2 separate regions of the Homo sapiens genome follow, and region 2 is linked to region 1. Evidence: fine-mapped expression QTL. A gene starts in region 1. The other region holds a variant in brackets. All regions are shown on one strand. Distances are between the middles of the regions.

What was found.
Region 2: its variant is fine-mapped to the expression of SAT2 in thyroid (GTEx, PIP 0.97).

The regions. Positions count from the first base shown.
Region 1 is chr17:7,625,501-7,630,873 of GRCh38, forward strand. SAT2 (spermidine/spermine N1-acetyltransferase family member 2) reads right to left here and starts at 2,321. Exons shown (of 6, transcript NM_133491.5): 1 at 2,070-2,321; 2 at 1,863-1,914; 3 at 1,643-1,726; 4 at 1,443-1,544; 5 at 1,253-1,293; 6 at 734-1,114. The coding sequence starts at 2,135. The coding sequence ends at 947. SHBG (sex hormone binding globulin) reads left to right here and starts at 4,635. Exons shown (of 8, transcript NM_001040.5): 1 at 4,635-4,783; 2 at 4,916-5,007; 3 at 5,180-5,369. The coding sequence starts at 4,673. RefSeq lists enhancers at 1,700-1,749, 2,230-2,309 and a silencer at 1,960-2,019.
Region 2 is chr17:6,828,033-6,833,385 of GRCh38, forward strand. It overlaps TEKT1 (tektin 1), which reads right to left and starts at 3,697. Exons shown (of 8, transcript NM_053285.2): 1 at 3,617-3,697; 2 at 2,155-2,361. The coding sequence starts at 2,344. RefSeq lists a silencer at 3,660-3,709. The variant A/G (reference allele first, on the strand shown) is at 2,439.

The DNA of each region.
Region 1 (5,373 bases):
CAAGAGGCAAAGCTTGCAGTGAGCCAAGATCTCACCACTGCCCTCCAGCCTGGGTGACAGAGCGAGACTCTGTCTCAAAAAAAATAAAAAGAAAAAGAAAAGACTGTGGGCTGGGCGCGGTGGCTCACACCTGTAATCCCAGCACTTTGGGGGGCCGAGGCAGTCGGACTACCTGAGGTCAGGAATTTGAGACCAGCCTGGCCAACAAGGTGAAACCCCGTCTCTACTAAAAATACGAAAATTAGCCGCATGTGGTAGCAGGCGCCTGTAATCCCAGCTACTCGGGAGTCTGAGGCAGGAGAATCACTTGAACCCGGGAGGCGGATGTTGCAGTGAGCCAAGATCAAACCTTTGCACTCCTTGCACTCTGGCCTGAGGACAACAGCAAGACTTGATCTCAAAAAAAAAAAAAAAGACTTTGGACTGGGTGCAGTGGCTCACACCAGTAATCCCAGCACTTTTCGAGGCCGAGGCGGACGGATCACGAGATCAGGAGTTGGAGACCAGCCTGGCCAGTATGGTGAAACACCGTCTCTACTAAAAATTAGCCGGGCATGGTGGTGCGCACCCGTAGTCCCAGCTACTCGGGAGGCTGAGGCAGGATAATTGCTTGAACCCGTGAGGCAGAGGTTGCAGTGAGCGGAGTTCGCACCACTGCACTCCAGCGTGCGCGACAGAGACTCTGTCTCAAAAAAAAAAAAAAAAAGAAATAAAAGAAAGACCCAACACCACATCAGGACATGTAATTCTTATTTATTTTTCACCCTCAACAAGGAAGAAAGGTCTCTCCCTCAATTCTGCTCTTCCAATACTTGAGGATAGGCACCCCTAACCCTCCTTCCTCCAGGGAGGCCTCAGCATCAGTGTCTGTGGACGTAGTCTCTGAAGAGTGCTTCAGCTGATGGGGAAGGAGAAACTCAAGACAGAGATCCTCCTAGGGATGGCGTCACTTTCCTGCCAACTTTCTCGTTGCCTCTCCTTGAAAGCAGAAGAAGTGCCAGCCCTCAGCTTCCGTCAGATCTTGGGCTCCTAGGGCCTTGTACAAGTCCATGGCCCTCTGGTTCCAGTCCAGGACGGCCAGGCGGAATTGGGAGCAGCCCTTATCCAAGGCCACCTGTGGGAGAAGACAACACTAACTTTTCTGGGGTCAAAAAAGAAAAAGGTTTTCTCACTCCCTCTTTCAACCCGGGTCCCCCCTCCATATACCCTTGCTTCTTCAGGTCCTCACTTGTCGCCCCACCCATCTCCTCACCTCAGCCACCTTTTTGATTATTTTGGAACCAATCCCTTGACCTGTTGTGGAGAGAAAGAGGCAAAAAATAGCTATTGTTTGAGCTGAAGGGGATCAGAAAATGACACCGGCTGGGCTCTGGGGACAGGGGATAACAGTGGGGTCTGTGGGGTGCTTTGCTCCCACCCCAGCCTCAGCTTCTGCCCAGTACCCCGATATTCCGGCATCACATAGATATCCTCCAGATAAATGGTGCGTCCCTTCCATGTACTGTAGATGAAATAGTATATCCCATAGCCCACCACGCAGGGCCCTGAGAGAGAGAAAAGGGGAGTAAGGCTTCTGGAAGCCTGTGGGGAGACCTCTGAGGCCGGCTGGAGAGGTGGACTTCTAAGGGCCAGGTGCTCTTACCCAGTAGCTTCCCGGGCGCTGGAAGAATCTCTGCTACCAAACAGTGATAGAAAGGATTGTCTCCAAAGCCATCTGCTCTCAGGGCTGCCGAGATTGGAGTTGTGACAAAGAGATAGAGAAAGAGGACGTGGGTGTATGCCCAGCCTGGAGCTGTCGCCTGGGGAACCCATCCCTCATTTCCTCCCCAGCCTCCGCCAGAACCTGGGCGCTGAGCCCCCACCTTCTTCACTGATCTTCACCTGATCCGAGAGTTTTTCGAATTCGGCTAGCTCCTAAGGCGTGGGTACGGAAGCTAGATTAGAGCAGAAGGGCCCCGCTGCTCCCCGAGCAGGTTCCCAAGGCGAGCCCCTCCCCCTGCCCCCGCCTCCTACGACCCCGCTCTGGCCGCGCCACTCTGACCCCCGGGTTACCGGCCTGCAGTCTTCACCCGAATCAGCCTCAGGATATCTCCACAGTCTCCCTCCTTGGCCTCTCGGATCCGCACGGAAGCCATCCGGATCCCCGCTGTCTGGGACCAAAGTCCCAGGGCCTCGCAAACGGCAACTAGACCCCTTAAAGGGCCTACGGACTTGGATCCTGAAGAGCCTGAGAGAGCGGGGTGGCGGGAGTCGGGGGGGACGGCGGGGTAGCCGCGGCCTGGTAAGTGGAGCTGGGATTCCGGCGCCGTACGGGAGGAGAGAGTAGGCCAGCGAGGCGATCCTCTGTCCGGGCATAGCCCCACCCCCTCGAATTCTGTCGCAGCAGGGGGCACAACTGTCAGCCAATCAGCTTGGAGAACAGGCACGGCCGCGTCCCCCCCAAGCCCCACCCCCGACAGCTGGATCTTGTGACTGGGCTCCTGGGTAGAGTTCAAGGTTGGAGTGAAGCGGCTTCCTTGCGGTTGTGTGGGTGTCCCAACCTGGGTCGAGATACCCCGCGGTTCAAAGGCTCCCCCGCAGTGCTTTTTAAATTGACATATGCAGTGATAACCTGCTTTAGCCTCAGGCTCACTCACCCGCCCAGACCCTGGGTAAGCCTTAAGACCCTCAGCTCTGAAAGCTGTTTCCTGCAGCTCTTGAGTAGCATGAAGTGTTACCTCTTGGGGGCATTTGCATTTTTTAAATGTTTTATTTTTATATTTATTTATTTATTTATTTTTGGAGATGGTGTATTGCTTTGTCGCCCAGGCTGGGGTGTAGTGGCGCGATCTCTGCTCACTGCAGCCTCCACCTCCCGAGTTCAAGCGATCCTCCTGTCTCAGCCTCCGGAGTAGCTGGAACTACAGTCGCGCACCGGCACGCCCGGCTAATTTTTTTTTCTTTTTTCTTCTCTTTTTTTTTGTTTTAACGGATTCTCACTCTGTCACTCAGGCTGGAGTGCAGTGGCGCGATCTCGGCTCACTGCAACCTCTCCCTCCTGGGTTCAAGCGATTCTCCTGCCTCACCCTCGGAGTAGCTGGGATTACAGGCATGGGCAACCATACCTGGCTAATTTTTGTATTTTTAGTAGAGACGGGGTTTCACTATGTTGGCCAGGCTGGTCTGGAACTCCTGACCTCAAGTGATCTGCCCGCCTCAGCCTTCTAAAGTGCTGGGATTACAGATGTGACCCACCAAGCCCGGTCTGTCATTTGCATTTTAAAATGGGTCATGGGGTGGGCACAGTGGCTCACACCTGTAATCCCAGCATTTTGGGAGGCAGAGGCAGGCGGATCACCTGAGATCAGGAATTTGAGACCAGCCTGACCAACATGGTGAAACCCCGTCTCTACTAAAAATACAAAAATTAGACAGGTGTGGTGGCGCATGCCTTTACTCCCAGCTACTCGGGAGGCTGAGACAGGAGAATCGCTTGAACCTGGGAGGTGGAGGTTACAGTGAGCCGAGATCGTGCCATTGCACTCCAGCCTGGGCAACAAAAGCGAAACTCCATCTCAAAATAAATAAATAAAATAAAATGCGTCAGGGAGGGTCGGGCCTTGTGGCTAATGCCTGTAATCCAGGTACTTTGGGAGGCTGAGGTGGGCGGATCATTTCAGGTCAGAGGTTCGAGATCAGCCTGGGCAACGTGGTGAAATCCCCGTCTCTACTAAAAACACAAAAAAATTTGCTGGGCGTGGTGGTGCGTGCACCTGTAGTCCCAACTACTAAGGAGGCTGAGACAGGAGGATCGCTTGAACTCGAGAGGCAGAGGCAGCAGTGAGCCGAGATCACGCCACTGCACTCCAGCCTGGGTGATAGAGCAAGACTCTGTCTAAAATAAAATAAAATAAAATAAAATAAAATAAAATAAAATGGGTCAGGGAGTGGGTGATTTCTACTGCTAGACTGTTTAGGCCCTGTAATAAATGGATAAGGGAAGATAACTGAGAGGCGGGGGGCAGGTCCCTTCTTAATATTCACTGAATCATACACACAGACAATACCTTCTTGGGAGACAGGCCTCAGAGGCCTGGGAAAAGACTGGGGGAGGAGTTCAGACCAGATGCCAGGCACTGTGCCTGCATTTTCTCAATGAACCCTCTTTCACAGTCACCCCGTAAAGTATTATTTTCCTCATTTTACAGACAAGGACACTGAAGCACAGAGGTGAAGTGACTTGCCCAAGGTCACTCAGCTAGAAATTTAGGATTCCATTATCTCATTTCTAGTCCTGATACAGGATGCTACTTGGGACGCAGGGGAGGACTGTTTCTAGACCTCAGGCCTGTGAATGCAGGCTCCCCGAGTGGACAGAAATCTTGGAGGACCTAGATCAGGCCCTAGAGGAGGAGAGGGGAGATGGAATATCCTCTCCCAGTTCAGAAACTTTCTCGGCAGTGGAGGATGATAGTGGAGGGGACTCTGTCCTTCACCCCATTGATCCCCAGAGGGGTGATAGCTGAGTCTTGTGACTGGGCCCCTGGGCAGGGGTCAAGGGTCAGTGCCCCTGTTTCCTTTACCCCCTCCTCCCCGGGCAACCTTTAACCCTCCACCGCCCACACGCAAGGCTGCCTGCCTCTACACATTCTCCCAAGAGTTGTCTGAGCCGCCGAGTGGACAGTGGCTGATTATGGAGAGCAGAGGCCCACTGGCTACCTCGCGCCTGCTGCTGTTGCTGCTGTTGCTACTACTGCGTCACACCCGCCAGGGATGGGCCCTGAGACCTGTTCTCCCCACCCAGGTGCAGGAGCGGGACAGGGCACTCAGCTCATGCAGTCTTCCCTTCTCTCCTCTGGCCCTGTAGCAGGGCCTCTCCCTCTGTCTGTCTCTGACATGTCCCTACTCAGCTTTGTTTGTTTTCTCTTTCTGATAGAGTGCCCACGACCCTCCGGCTGTCCACCTCAGCAATGGCCCAGGACAAGAGCCTATCGCTGTCATGACCTTTGACCTCACCAAGATCACAAAGTATGGGGTTGGCCTAGCCCTTGACCCAGTCCCCTGGTTCTGCCCTCTCTCCATCAGCTCTTCTCTTTTCCCTGTCTTCCTTTCCTTATCTGTGAACACCATCTCCCCCAAACCCACACTGGTTCTCAAAGGACACATGACATACACAATCTTTCCTTCTGTGTCCTTCCAGAACCTCCTCCTCCTTTGAGGTTCGAACCTGGGACCCAGAGGGAGTGATTTTTTATGGGGATACCAACCCTAAGGATGACTGGTTTATGCTGGGACTTCGAGACGGCAGGCCTGAGATCCAACTGCACAATCACTGGGCCCAGCTTACGGTGGGTGCTGGACCACGGCTGGATGATGGGAGATGGCACCAGGTAA
Region 2 (5,353 bases), 800 kb before region 1:
CTCCTTGGTTCAAGCGATTCTCCTGCCTCAGCCTCCTGAGTAACCGGGACTACAGATGCATGCCACCATGCCCCACTAATTTTTTGTATTTTTAGTAAAGACAGGGTTTCACCATGTTAGCCAGGATGGTCTCAATCTCCTGACCTTGTGATCCGCCCACGTTGGCCTCCCAAAGTGCTGGAATCACAGGCGTGAGCCACCATGCCCGGGCGCCTTCTCATTTTTAACACCTACCTATTTGCACAATTATTTAGAACAGGCCTATCTACAGGGTGGTATCAATGTAAGGGTCAACCTATTAGGAGAGCCTAACATCTAACATTGCTGACCTGAATGAAGGTTTCATTTACTGGAAATTAGAAAACTACAGTCCTCAGACCAGGTTTGATCCATAAACGTGTTTGTTCAGCTGGCCCAGTGTTATAAATAAATTAAGTCAGTTACCAACATTTAAAACGTGAATAAATTCCTGCTTTCCAGATTTTCTTGAAAAAATCGGACAATCAGGCAACACTGGGCTCATGTTCTTTCTTGGAAGCAATGGGTTGAAACTGAGTAGCAGCTTCCTCCTTAGATGGGGCACACGTTCTCCAGGTCCCCACAGTCCCTACTAAACCCTAATGCCTTACATTCAATCCCTATGCTACCTGCTTGGTCCCTATAGATAGTCGAGTTGGTTACCCCTGGTTAATCCCTTTTTGGCATTTAGCCGACGTTGGTTGTTTGTTTTGTTTTATGTTTATTTTTGTTTTGATTATTTAAGGATACTATCTTTTTTTTTAAATGTGCTTTCCTGAGATCTTTGCTAAAGAACGCTACCTTTTAAATACTGTTTTAGGCAGGGTGCGGTGGCTCGTGCCTGTAATCCCAGACTTTGGGAGGCTGAGGCGGGCGGACCACCTGAGGTCAGGAGTTCAAGACCAGCCTGGCCAACATGATGAAACCCCGTCTCTACCAAAAATACAAAAATTAGCCGGGTGTGATGGTGCACGCCTGTAATCCCAGCTACTCAGGAGGCTGAGGCAGGAGAAGCGCTCGAACCTGGAAGGCAGAGATTGCAGTGAGCTGAGATTGTGCCACTGTACTCTGGCCTGTGTGATGGAGCGAGACTCTGTCTCAAGAAATTTAAGTAAATACTGTTTTAAGTAAGGAATTGTCAAGAGAAAATGACTCCTTTTAAGACTCAAGTAAATGTTCTTCTCTAGAAAAACTTTTCCAATTTTTCACATCTACTCCGCCCCGTCTTTGTTCCCCTACCCCAGCACCTATCTGGTTATACACCTGTCCCTTGGTATCCTCAGAGGATTTGTTCCAGAGTCCCTGACAGACACCAAAATCCATGGATGCTCAAGTCTTTTATACAAAATGGTGTAGTGTTTTCATATAACCTATGCACATCTTCCCATATACTTTCCTTTTCTCTTTCTTTTCTTTCTCTTTCTTTCTTTCTTTCTCTCTTTCATTCTTCCTTTCTTTTTCTTTCTTTTTTTTTTTTTTATGAAACAGGGTCTTGGTATATCACCCAGGGTGGTCTCTAACTCCTGGGCTTACAGGATCCTACTGCCTCAGCCCTCCAAGTAGCTGGGACTAACAGCACATGCTACCACACCCAGCCAGTATACTTTAAATCATCTTCAGATTACTTATAATACCTAATACAATGCAAATACTATGTAAATAGCTGTTGAACTGTATTGTTTTTATTTGTATTCTTTAATTGTTGTAATCTTTTATTGTTTTTTTTTCCTAAGTATTTTGGACCTACAACTGGCTGAACCCATGGATACAAAGGGCTGACTGTATTCTGATGATTAATTTTTGTATCTTTATCCTCTTCAAGTTAGAAGCCCCTAAAAAGCAGAGATTCTGATCATTCCCTGTGATATGCCTAGTGTGTAGTACATAGATGCCCATAGATGCTCAATAACTGTGCATCAAATCAACAAATAAATGAATGATGGGTGGCTGAAAATCAGGCTGGGTTACCTTGTGTCTATCTTAGGGCAGTGAACTTAAACATAGAACCTGGAGAATACACATGATTTTCTCTAATATTCAAAAATAATATGTTGCCACATCTGAACATGACACTATAGCTAAACTCAACAGCCTCATCCTAGCATGTTCACGAATATGCCAAGCATGTTGTCTTACCTAGTTTCTTGTTCACATCGCTTTGAGATTTTCTTGTGGTCTTTTCAATTTCATCCACAAGCCTCTGGCTTTCTGCGACCAGGCGTTCTGATCGGGACCTTTGAGCGTCTGCTCTGTGGTACTGGTTCTTGTTAGCAATGTGCCACTCTGAGGGCAGGAACTTGGGTGGAGGTTGTAATAGTTTAGCCATTTGAGGTTTCCAAATTCCTGATCAAAAGCAGACTCTTTTAGATTAAATGAAAGCAATTTGTCCTTTTTTATGATAATTTTTATTCAAGGATGAC[A/G]TATATACGGAAAATTGCATAAATCATAATCTGTACACAAAATAAATCTATCTGTGTAGCCGGCACCCAAACCAAGAAACAAGCATTACCAGCATCTCTAACCTCCTCCCAGTTACTCCACCTCAAGCCCCTCAGGGTAACCAGTATCCTGACTTTTAACACTACAAATTCGTTTTGCTGTTTTTGAATTTAACATAAATGGAATAATACAGTATGTATTATTCTGTCTCTGACTTCTTTAGCTCAACATTATGTTTGTAAAATTCATCCATATTGTCTATATGATTGCAGTTTGTTCGTTCTCGTTGCTGTGTAGGTGCCGTTATATGAATAAAATCTAGCTGTCTTTTCTACTGTTTATGGATATTTGGGTTGTTTACACTCCAGGGCCATAATGAGAATGCTATTAATAGTCTCATACATGTCTTTTGGTGAACACGTGTATGCATTTTTATAACTCATTAGAATTGTTGGGTCATGGAGTAATGTTCTGCCAAACAGATGAGCCCAGAGATGTTTTCTTAAAAAAAGAAGAAGAAAAAGAAGAGGAAGAAGAAGGAGGAGGAGGAGGAGGAGGAGGAGGAAATGTAACATGTGTAAACTGACAACTGGGTATTGAACTTGTTCAACACATAAAAGAATCTGAAAACTTCCAGGACAAAGAAAAGGAGAGAACAGGAAGGGGAACAACACAGGGGAAGCCAGCTGGCAGAGGCTGTCGGCAGTGGAAACGCTAAAATTACCCATTTCATCTTCATACAACTCTGATGGACCATGAGAACTGCCTTCCTCAGACAGGGCTGAAATCTGCCCCCACTCCCATCTCTACCCTAAGGTCTGAGTCCCTGCTCTTAGGGGCCTCTGGATCTCTGAAGCCTTCACATATATAAGGATGAAACTAGAGTCAGATCTTGACTAGGCTGAGAACCTCAGCCCACCCAGCCCCCTCAGACAACATGGAGTTTCTCCGTTTCTTCCTAGCCCAGTCCCTTTTATGGCTTCTACCGAATTTATCTGAGTGTGGAGCCCAGCATTTAACCCAAGGCTCCTGGATAAGTCTGAATAGCCCCCAGAGAGGTGGGGACCTAAATTAGGGCTCATCCCAACGTCATAAGGATTTGGTTAGGCGGGGAGGGTTGCGGGTAGGGGTCGGTGGGGTGGGGTCATGGTTTACTTACCTCAGCGCCACACAGAACCACTACGCAAGCTCGGGATGGGAGCCTCCTTACCCCAACTGGAGCTTCCAGCTCTTGCAGAACAGAGAGGTAAACAACGCGGTCTCCATGACAACAAGTGACGCGTTGCCAGGGCAAAGAGGGCTGGTTCCGCCACTGAGCAGCCTGGCCAAAGGCTTAGCGCAGGCGCAAATTCTGCGGACCCCAGAGCCAGAGACCCAGGAGTGTGGCGTGTGGGAAGGGTAGGGCCAGATGCTCCGGCCACCTCAACCTACCGCGAAGACGCGGGGCACCAAGCAGAAGACAGCGGCCAAAGCCCCGAGCTGGGAGTCAGGAGACCTGCGTCTAGTCCGAGCCCTCCCGCGGGCGGGATCATCTCGGGTCGCGCTGTACCCCGGCTCTCAGACTTCCCGGCTGTACAGTGGGGTTGGGCTGGGCGATGCCTCCAGGACCTCGCAGTCGCAGGCGAAATTGAGGGTTAAAAATCAGGAAGCCAAGTTGATTGTTTCTGTAAGCTACAATGAGTTTCCTCCAGAGTTTGTATAGGTCTGTTACCACAACTGGCTTATTTCTGCGTGGGGCGCCCGATGGGGCACTCTGTGAGGGCAGGTGTGTGAGTAGAACGCCTTCAGGCAAACACTCCAGAAGTCACTCTGCATCCACTAGGAGATGGAAAATATGGGAGAAAAATTAAATCTGAGGGGATAGCTCCAGAAGATTTAATATTTGTCAAGTAGGACTTCCAGAAGGAAAGAAAAAAAGAGAGAGAATGGCAAAACAATTGTGAAAGTGAGAGAGAGATAACTTGAGCCAAAGACTCAAGTCTTTAGATTAACGACCCACCTGAAATTAACACACACCCCCATTCCTTACATATAGTCCTCCCTGTGGATTATGCATATAATCCATAGAGTGATTAGCTCCAGGATCCCCCTCAGATACTGAAATCTGCAGATTCTCAAGTCTCATATAAAGTGGTGTAGCATTTGTATATAACCTACGCACATCCCTAGATAGGCATACTTTACGTCATCTCTAGATTGCTACAATACCTAATACAATGCCTAATACAATACCTAATATAGTGCCTAATACAGTGCCTAATGCAATACATAATACAATACATAATACAACACCTAATACCTAATATAATACCTAATACAATGCCTAATACAATACCTAATACAATGTCTAACCATGCCTACTCATCGCTTCATTCGCATGGATTCAACATAGCACTCAGGGTGCAACAAATTCAAGTTTTGCTTTTTGGAGCTTTGTGGAATTTTTTTCCTGAATATTTTTTATTTGTGTGTCATCGCATCCAAGGATGTAGAATCCACGGATAGGAAGGGCCAACTTTATACCTATTCTGGTGGAATTTCTTAATTCAAAGAATAAGAAGAAAAAGAAAGAATAGGTATCAAGTGTTTCGTCTCTAACACAGGTGGCTAGAAATGATGGTTGCTAGAAATGATGCTAGGATAATGCCTTCAAATTCTATAGAAAATTATTTCAAATCTGGGATTCTACAACCAGTCAAAGCATTTCATGTATGAGAGCAAAATAAAAGATTTCTTTGGACATGCCAGTACTCAAAACGGTGAGCGTACATTCTTTATGGAAAAAAATAATAGAGCAAAAGTGAAAAATCCAGAAAGAAGAAGATACTGGACATAAGACATAGTGGAACCAACCCAGCTGTGTGATGAAAAGAAAGCTCGGTGTAATAGCTACCGA